2 linked regions of the Homo sapiens genome follow. The protein of the gene in region 2 purifies or fractionates together with the protein of the main gene of each other region. This does not show direct contact. Each region holds a gene or a part of one and is shown on either strand. Other genes may lie near its edges. The genes, in order: ACAA2 and TMIGD1.

Region 1 (3,827 bases), on a different chromosome or scaffold from region 2:
GTAGCCCCCAGTCACGTTCCCCACACTTGCTTGATCTATCACCATCCTTTCAGGTGGACCCCTTAGAGTTGTAAGCCCTTAAAAGGGCCAAGAATTTCTTTTTGAGGGAGCTCGGCTCTTAAGACGCAAGTTGGTGGATGCTCCAAGCCAAATAAAGCCTCTTCCTTCTTTAATCCAGTGTCTGAGGAGTTTTGACTGTGGCTCGTCCTGCTACACTGTGATGTAAAGCCATTCTGGTTAGACAACTTTCTTGTTCTCTGATGCTTCACAATGCTAGAAACATATGTTGAGAACTAAAATCCTTCTTCTATGTGCTGGAGTATATTGCCTAGTATTAGAATAAAAGAATCTCCAAACTAGAAGGTGCCTTAGGGTTGTCTGAGGTCAACCACTCACTCTATAAGAACTACCTCTAAAAATTCCTGACAAAAGGTTCTCTCTAAACCTCTGCCAGGAAACTTTCAGTAAGAGGGCATACTCTACTGCATGAAACAGTGTGCTGGTCATGGACAACATAAACTAATGATATTGCTTTTTTTTTTTTTTTTTTGGAGACAGAGTTTTGCTCTTGTCGCCCAGGCTGGAGCGCAGTGGCGCGATTTCGGCTCACTGCAACCTCCGCCTCCCGGGTTCAAGTGATTCTCCTGCCTCAGCCTCCCGAGTAGCTGGGACTACAGACACCCACCACCAGGCCCGGCTAATTTTTGTATTTTTAGTAGAGACGGGGTTTCACCATGTTGGCCAGGCTGGTCTTGAACTCCTGACCTCAGGGGATCCACCCACCTCAGCCTCCCAAAGTGCTAGAATTACAGGCGTGAGTCACCCACTCCCGGCCCCAACGAATGATATTTCTTTATATTGAACTAACTCAGCTTACAAAGTCTTCCATCCACCAATTCTAGTTCTCTCCAAAAGCACCAACACAGATAGAGATGTAGTTTCTAGAATATATGCTGCTACCGGTTCTAGAGTCACAGGATGACTCAAGTTACAGACTTCAAATAAATAACCTGAACTATTATCTTTTACTCTTAGAAAAAAAATGGGCAAAACAGGTTACCTTCTACATGTGTATCCCCCACCTCCAGTATCTGAAGTCAGCTAACCTGTAAGTCCCCAAACCTAGTGACTCTCATCTCAGGTAAATTAAAGGCATTCTTTCAATAGTTTTTTATTTGACATTAATTCTGACTGCTTTCCTCTAAAGACACTGTAGTTTGCCAACATCCTATTAAAATGTGTCCCTTAGAATATAAGAATATAACAAAAATAGCATGCATTTTATCTAATCACAAAGAATAGAGGAATTATCTATACATCTACTAATACAAACTAAGACTATAAATTTGCAGCATCACTATTAGTTAAATCGGTGTCCTTGTACAAATAAATAAAAATCACCCCTTCCCAATCACCTACTACCATCTGCCAAAAAAAAACTTGTGACTATACAAATATATGATTATGATGTGAGTGGTACCCACTCATCATCATTAGAGCTGTACAGTGCAAAACCGGCATATCAGTAAGCAGCATCAGTTATAGCCATTTCATCATATTGACATTCATTAGGTGTCTACTAAATACTAGACATTTTATCACTTTCCACACAAAAGCTAATCTTCCCAGCAACTCTGCAAGGTAAATATTATAGCTAACATAGAGGGGACACTTACTATGGAATAGACTTCATGCTAGCACTTTGCATATACTAACTTTATTCTCTCCAAGACAATCTAAGCTCACATTTCCACATCTTGTCAAGAAATTATGGGACTTTCGGCAATGGGTTTGTGATAAGATACTGATCTACAAATGAGACTATTCAAGCATTATACCACTACTGGTATCTAAGTATAATCTTCCAGTTTATGATCTCTTTCATCAAACAAACCAAGCCTAGCCTAAAATATTTCTATTTCAACCTCTCTTTTCATTCCTATTTTGAGAAATTTGCAGTTTAAAGGAATATTAGGAGCAATATATATAACTATAATTTAGAACAGATCCACTCAGTTTTTTACAGATACAAATTCAGATAGTTACAAAAGGCCATAAATACTAGTCGAGTGCATTACAAACGTTTTGTTCTGGTAAATTGGTTATTCTGTACCATGATGCCTTCCTGAATCTTTTCAAGTTTCCTTTCATCCTCCTTCCTTAACAGTCTCTGCCTATTTTTATATCAGTGTTTTCTTTTTTTTTTGAGACAGTCTTGCTCTGTGCCCAGGCTAGAGTGCAGTGATGTGATCACAGCTCCCTGCAGCCTCGACCTCTGCAGCCTCGACTTTCCCAACTCAAGTGATCCCCCTGCCTCAGCCTCCCAAGTAGGTAGGACTACAGGCATGTGCCACCACACCTGGCTAATTTTTACCTTTTTTTCTTTTTTTTTTTTGTAGAGATGGGGTCTTGCTATGTTTCCCAGGCTGGTCTCGAACTCCTGGGCTCAAGCAATCCTCCCACCTTGGCCTCCCAAACTGCTAGGATTATAGGCATGAGCTACTGCACCTGGCCTATCAGTGGTTGCTTTATTTCATTCTTCTTTCCTCTTTCCATGCCTTCTTCCTAATTTCATTAGTTCTGCTTCTGGTCATGGCCTACTATGCTCCTATCTGACCAACCCTCCAACAGATAACAATGAAAAACTCCAGACAATATATAAGAACAACTACTACCTGACGGTCTTGGAAATGAACAAAACTAGACAGGTAAGGAGAAGAGTTGATACTTAGAGGAAGGGAACAGAACAGGGTAAGTGTCCAATTTATTTATAGCAACTAACTTGAAGACTAACAGTCCATGATGCATGGAATGGCTAGAACTCAGAAACAGTCTTACTGGCTTGAAGAATCAGAGAATAAAATTCATGGTAAGCACAGCCACTAGAAAGTGAATGAGAATCTGGGAAAGAGGAGCACCATAGAGCGAGATTCCAAATTTCACATATAAACTCTGCCCAAATATTTGGCTGACTCCTTAGCCATTCATGTGTAGGTCAGACCACAAGCACCTAAGCCAAGCCTTAAAAAACTGAACTTAGATTTAAGCTGCTGCCCACTACAAGGGGAGACATAGTTTATCACGGGGGTGCATGGGGGTGATTTTGTAGGCAAAGTAACTGTCTACAAAAAATAAATAGCCAACCAATCAATAAGTCAGTTCTGTCTGCAGGATTATAACAGAATCCAGTCTCCACAATGTTCCATCTGCAATATTCATAATATAATTCAAAGTTAATCCACATATGAGGAAACAAAAAATATGACAATCAACAGAGACCAATCCCAAGAAGACCCAGACACTGAAATTAGCAGACAAGGATTTTAAAATAGCATTCTATTACAACTATGCTCAAGGATGTAGAGGAAAATATGCTCCTAATAAAACATAGGACATCTCAGTAAAGAAATACATACTATAAAAATCCAAAATGGAAATTCCAAAACTGGAAAATACCTGAAATAAAAAATTCCCTGGATGGGCTTAACAGCAAAATAGAAATGAAAGGAGAAAAATTCAGCGACTTTGAAGATAGATAAATAGAAATTAACCAATCTGAAGAACAGATGAAAAAAAAAAGATTAAAAAACAAAGCCAGAACCTCAAGGTCTGACAAAGGAGGAAAGGCAATTCACTGGAAAAAGGATCGTCTTTCCAACAAACAGTGCTGGAACAACAAAACATCTATATACCAAACAAAATGAATCCAGGCAAAAATGCGTCAACTTTGATAGTGGGCTGGGCACTGTGGCTCAAGCCTATAATCTCAGCTACTCAAGAGGCTGAGGTGGGAGGACTGTGTCAGGATAGGAGTTTGAAACCAGCCT
Region 2 (3,827 bases):
TTCTGGCAGGGGTTCAGCTGGCTTCCTGGTGACTGACAAGACTGGCAATAAGTGAGTACAGGGAGGCAAATGACAAAGTGAGTAATGTTCTAACAAGATATGGGAGTCTCAGCTTGTTGGGCTGCTCCTGGTGTGCTAGCATGAGAGCAGACCATGTGTGAATGAGCATTTTTGGCATCTGCTACCCCAGGTATTTTGCCTTTCTCTTTTTGTATGAGCAAGAAATATGAGGAGGGAAAACCCCACAGAGCATCATTTGTTCTGTCATTGTAGAGGTGATAACCCTGGGTAGATGAAGCATGAATCCAAGAGAAAGGGCTTTTTTGTCCCCTTATTTTTTCCTACTCTCTCTGCTGATTACCCTACAGGTTAGAATTTGAGTTAGGAGTGATTGTAGGGATCCATTTTCTTATCTAGTCCTAATTTCTCTTCTCTGTGTGTTTTTTACTTCTGTTAGTTATGAAGCTGTGAACTCAAAAGTCCAGTTGCTACACACATTGTTGCCCAGGAGAATTCATGGAAATACTCTTCCCTAAAAGCCAAGCAGGATTGTTTCCTATATTTGGTTCTAAGAAAGGATTCTTGCTCAAAAAACAGTGTCCTGTATGGAATGGGCATGATTTCCCTGAAAGGATGGACTAGGATTCTTAGTGGAAAAATCCTTGGATGGGGATGATTCTCCAAAGAAAATCCTGGCCCTAATCATAACCGTTATTATCATTTATTGTCACCAGAAATATTCACTGAGCATCTGGTGTGAGTTTTGCACTGTGCTGGGTATTACTTAAAAAGAGCATTACCTTTAACAATCAGGTGAAAGTCCAAGCTCTCCGTTTTCAGAGATGACTTTGCAATACAACTGTAGGTTCCGTTGTCAGGCTTCTCGACTTTGGTGATTGACAGCTGAAAAGACTCACTTGTCTGTTGGATTTGGTGACGGCTTTTCTCTAAATCGAGGAGACTACTGTTTTTGTACCACATCATTTGAGCCTGGGGGTTGGCTTTCACATTGCAAACCAACTTCACATTACTGCCTTCCTCAACTGTTTGGAAGTCGTTTCCACTTAGGAGAGGAGGAACTGCAAGACTCAAGCATTTAGATTTAATTAGCAGATAAGCAATAGTTCACTGTCAGAGTTCAAAGTCTTCCTTCAATCTATCTCATGTGGTCATTTATTCATTTGACAAAAATTTATTAAATACGTACGGTGTGACAAGCACTGGGGTAACAAGGGCAAATAACACTTCCAGTTCCAAATCTCATAGAACTTTTAATGTGATGAAGAAGACAAACCATGAAACAATATATGATTATGAGCATGATATATATAGTAATGATCTATGACAAGCAGACAATTTGTAACACTACCCAAGAGTATAAGCCTTGAGTCTTTCTTCTCTGAGAATTAATAAACCAACCTGTGCTAGTGTTGCACAAAACAGTACAAAATTAAGAAGACATACATTGCAATTAGATCTAATTCCATCTACACCGTTTACTGTGACTTTGAGACAGTTAACTAACTGCTAAGGCCTCTGTTTCTCATGTAAAAAAAAAATGGGATAATCATACATCTCCTGAGATGCTGTAAAGATTAAATAAAATAATCCCTGTAAAGAATTTGCCACAGTGCTAGCCGCTATTATTATTACGGTGGTGGTGGTTTTGAGGGTTACTCTCACCGTCTGTTTTTGCATTTTATCGAACCATTGCCTTGGTAACATATTCACCAATGCATCTTTGCGTTTTCTCAGTGGTGCTCTAGAAATAATGTCCTCCTCCCAGAAGGTGTTCTAAGCATGAGAACTCTGGCATCTGTGGAAGGCAAGTGAGTCCCTCTCATCCCTGTGTGTGAGCAACTCCTTTTTTCCTCTACAATAAGGGCAGTTGTAGACCCATAGACAGTCAACACATCTATCACTGTGCATATTCTGGCAGAAGTGCAGAATAGTAATGAAATGGTTGGAGAGTGGGAACTAGGAAAAAGATAGAGACGGAGAAGGAGGAAAAAGGAGCTTGTATAATCTGCACACTGAATAATTAGACCCTGAGTAGGCTGTGTTATTAATAACTCTCTCAGAAGAATGACATTTTGTTGCTCTTTGGAATGAGCTCGAATTCTGTATCATATCCAACAAGGATGTTATATGGTATTCAGATAGGAAGGAAGCTGCTGGAATAGAGAACATAATTGCCAAATGGAACAATTCCATTTGTGGACAGATTCTGTTAGTGATTTCTTTCTATTTAACTATTTGAAATTAATTTAAGCATATCAGTATATGTGAATATCCCCTCTGTAAAAATTAGTACATTTTAGATAAAGCTAAGATCCAAGCTGGTCACTTCCTGATCCCCAGAGATACCCACTGTTATGAGTTTGGTGTAAATCCTTCCCTATCTTTCTTTTTTCTTAAATAGTTTTCTATACATATAGTGTACCCATAGGAAATATATCATATTATTTTAGGGACATGGGAAGGTTTTACATAAAATACTTCCTTTCTCTCAGTAACTTGCATGTTTTTGAGATATGTTTATATTGAACCACAGAGATCTAGCTTATTGCTTTTAGAATGCTATAGTATAATGTATGCCTTTAATCATTTGTGTTTTGATGGGCTTTAGGTTGTTTTCATTTTAAAATGTTAAACAATGCTACAATAAACATCCTTGTACATATCTCTTTATGATCCTGTACATGTATTTCTCCAACGTTAACATCTAGAAGGAGAAATGGTGTGTCGTAAGATATGCACACTTTAAATTTTGATAAGTATTTTGAAAGAGGTGTTCTCAATTTAAACTTTCAGCAACGAGGTATGAGAGGACCTGTTTCTCCACATTCTCCCCCAAACAGTGTATTATCAAGCTTCCATTTAGTTCTTGATTCTGCTATTTATAACAATAATGGTCCTGCCTTTGAAGGGTACATAATATCCTTGTCACATTTTATGAGCTCATTTTGATTTATTGGTTGATGACTTTGTGTCAGTACTGTCATTATGGATTACTGAGCAATTAACTATACACACACACACACACACACACACACACACACACTTAGCAACAATGATATTTAGGAGATTGTTATAAACAGAATTTAAACAGTGGATTGAGGCTAGAAAACTGAAAACAATTTCTTTAAGTCATCAAATCACATTGTTGGCATTTCTGCCATGTCTCCCTTAAGAGGGTTCCATCAGCCTGGGCAACATAGCAAAACCCCGTCTCTACAAAAAATACAAAAATCAGCTCGGCCTGGTGGTGCACGCCTGTAGTCCCAGCTACTTGGAAGGCTGAGGCAGGCAGATCACTTGAGCCTGGGAGGCAGAGGTTATAGTGAGCTGAGATTGTGCCACTGCACTCCAGTGTAGGTGACAGAGTGAGACCCTGTCTCAAAAAAAAAAAAAGTTTCGTGGAATAAGCACTTAAGCACTAGGTTAGAAGCTTGGGAATTAGTGTTTTATTCTCAGCTGCACCTATGATTTGAGCCCCTAGTCCGGGCCTTAGTTTCCTTAGCTGGCTTTTTATTTTATTTTATTTTATTTTATTTTTTTTGAGACAGGGTCTCACTCTGTTGCCCAGGTTGAAATGCAGTGGCGCAATCACAGCTCGCTGAAGCCTCAAACTTCTGGGCTCAGAAGATCCTGTAGCCTCAGCCTCCCGAGCAGCTGGGGCTACAGATGTGTGCCACCATGCCCAGCTAATTAAAAACACACCTTATTTTTTTTTTTGGTAGAAATAGGGTCTCACTATGTTATGTTTGTAGAGATAGGGTCTTTCTACCAAATCATACTGCATCATTATACCTCACCCATTGCCA

The links.
Region 1: the proteins of TMIGD1 (region 2) and ACAA2 purify together in Homo sapiens (co-immunoprecipitation; one study listed by IntAct). This does not show direct contact.

Annotation. Positions count from the first base shown.
Region 1 is NC_000018.10:49,803,377-49,807,203, forward strand, and holds part of ACAA2 (3-ketoacyl-CoA thiolase, mitochondrial), read right to left. Parts: intron 1-3,827. UniProt on the Homo sapiens protein: In the production of energy from fats, this is one of the enzymes that catalyzes the last step of the mitochondrial beta-oxidation pathway, an aerobic process breaking down fatty acids into acetyl-CoA.
Region 2 is NC_000017.11:30,324,016-30,327,842, forward strand, and holds part of TMIGD1 (transmembrane and immunoglobulin domain-containing protein 1 isoform 1 precursor), read right to left. Parts: intron 1,080-3,827; coding exon 801-1,079; intron 1-800. UniProt on the Homo sapiens protein: May control cell-cell adhesion, cell migration and proliferation, cell morphology, and protects renal epithelial cells from oxidative cell injury to promote cell survival.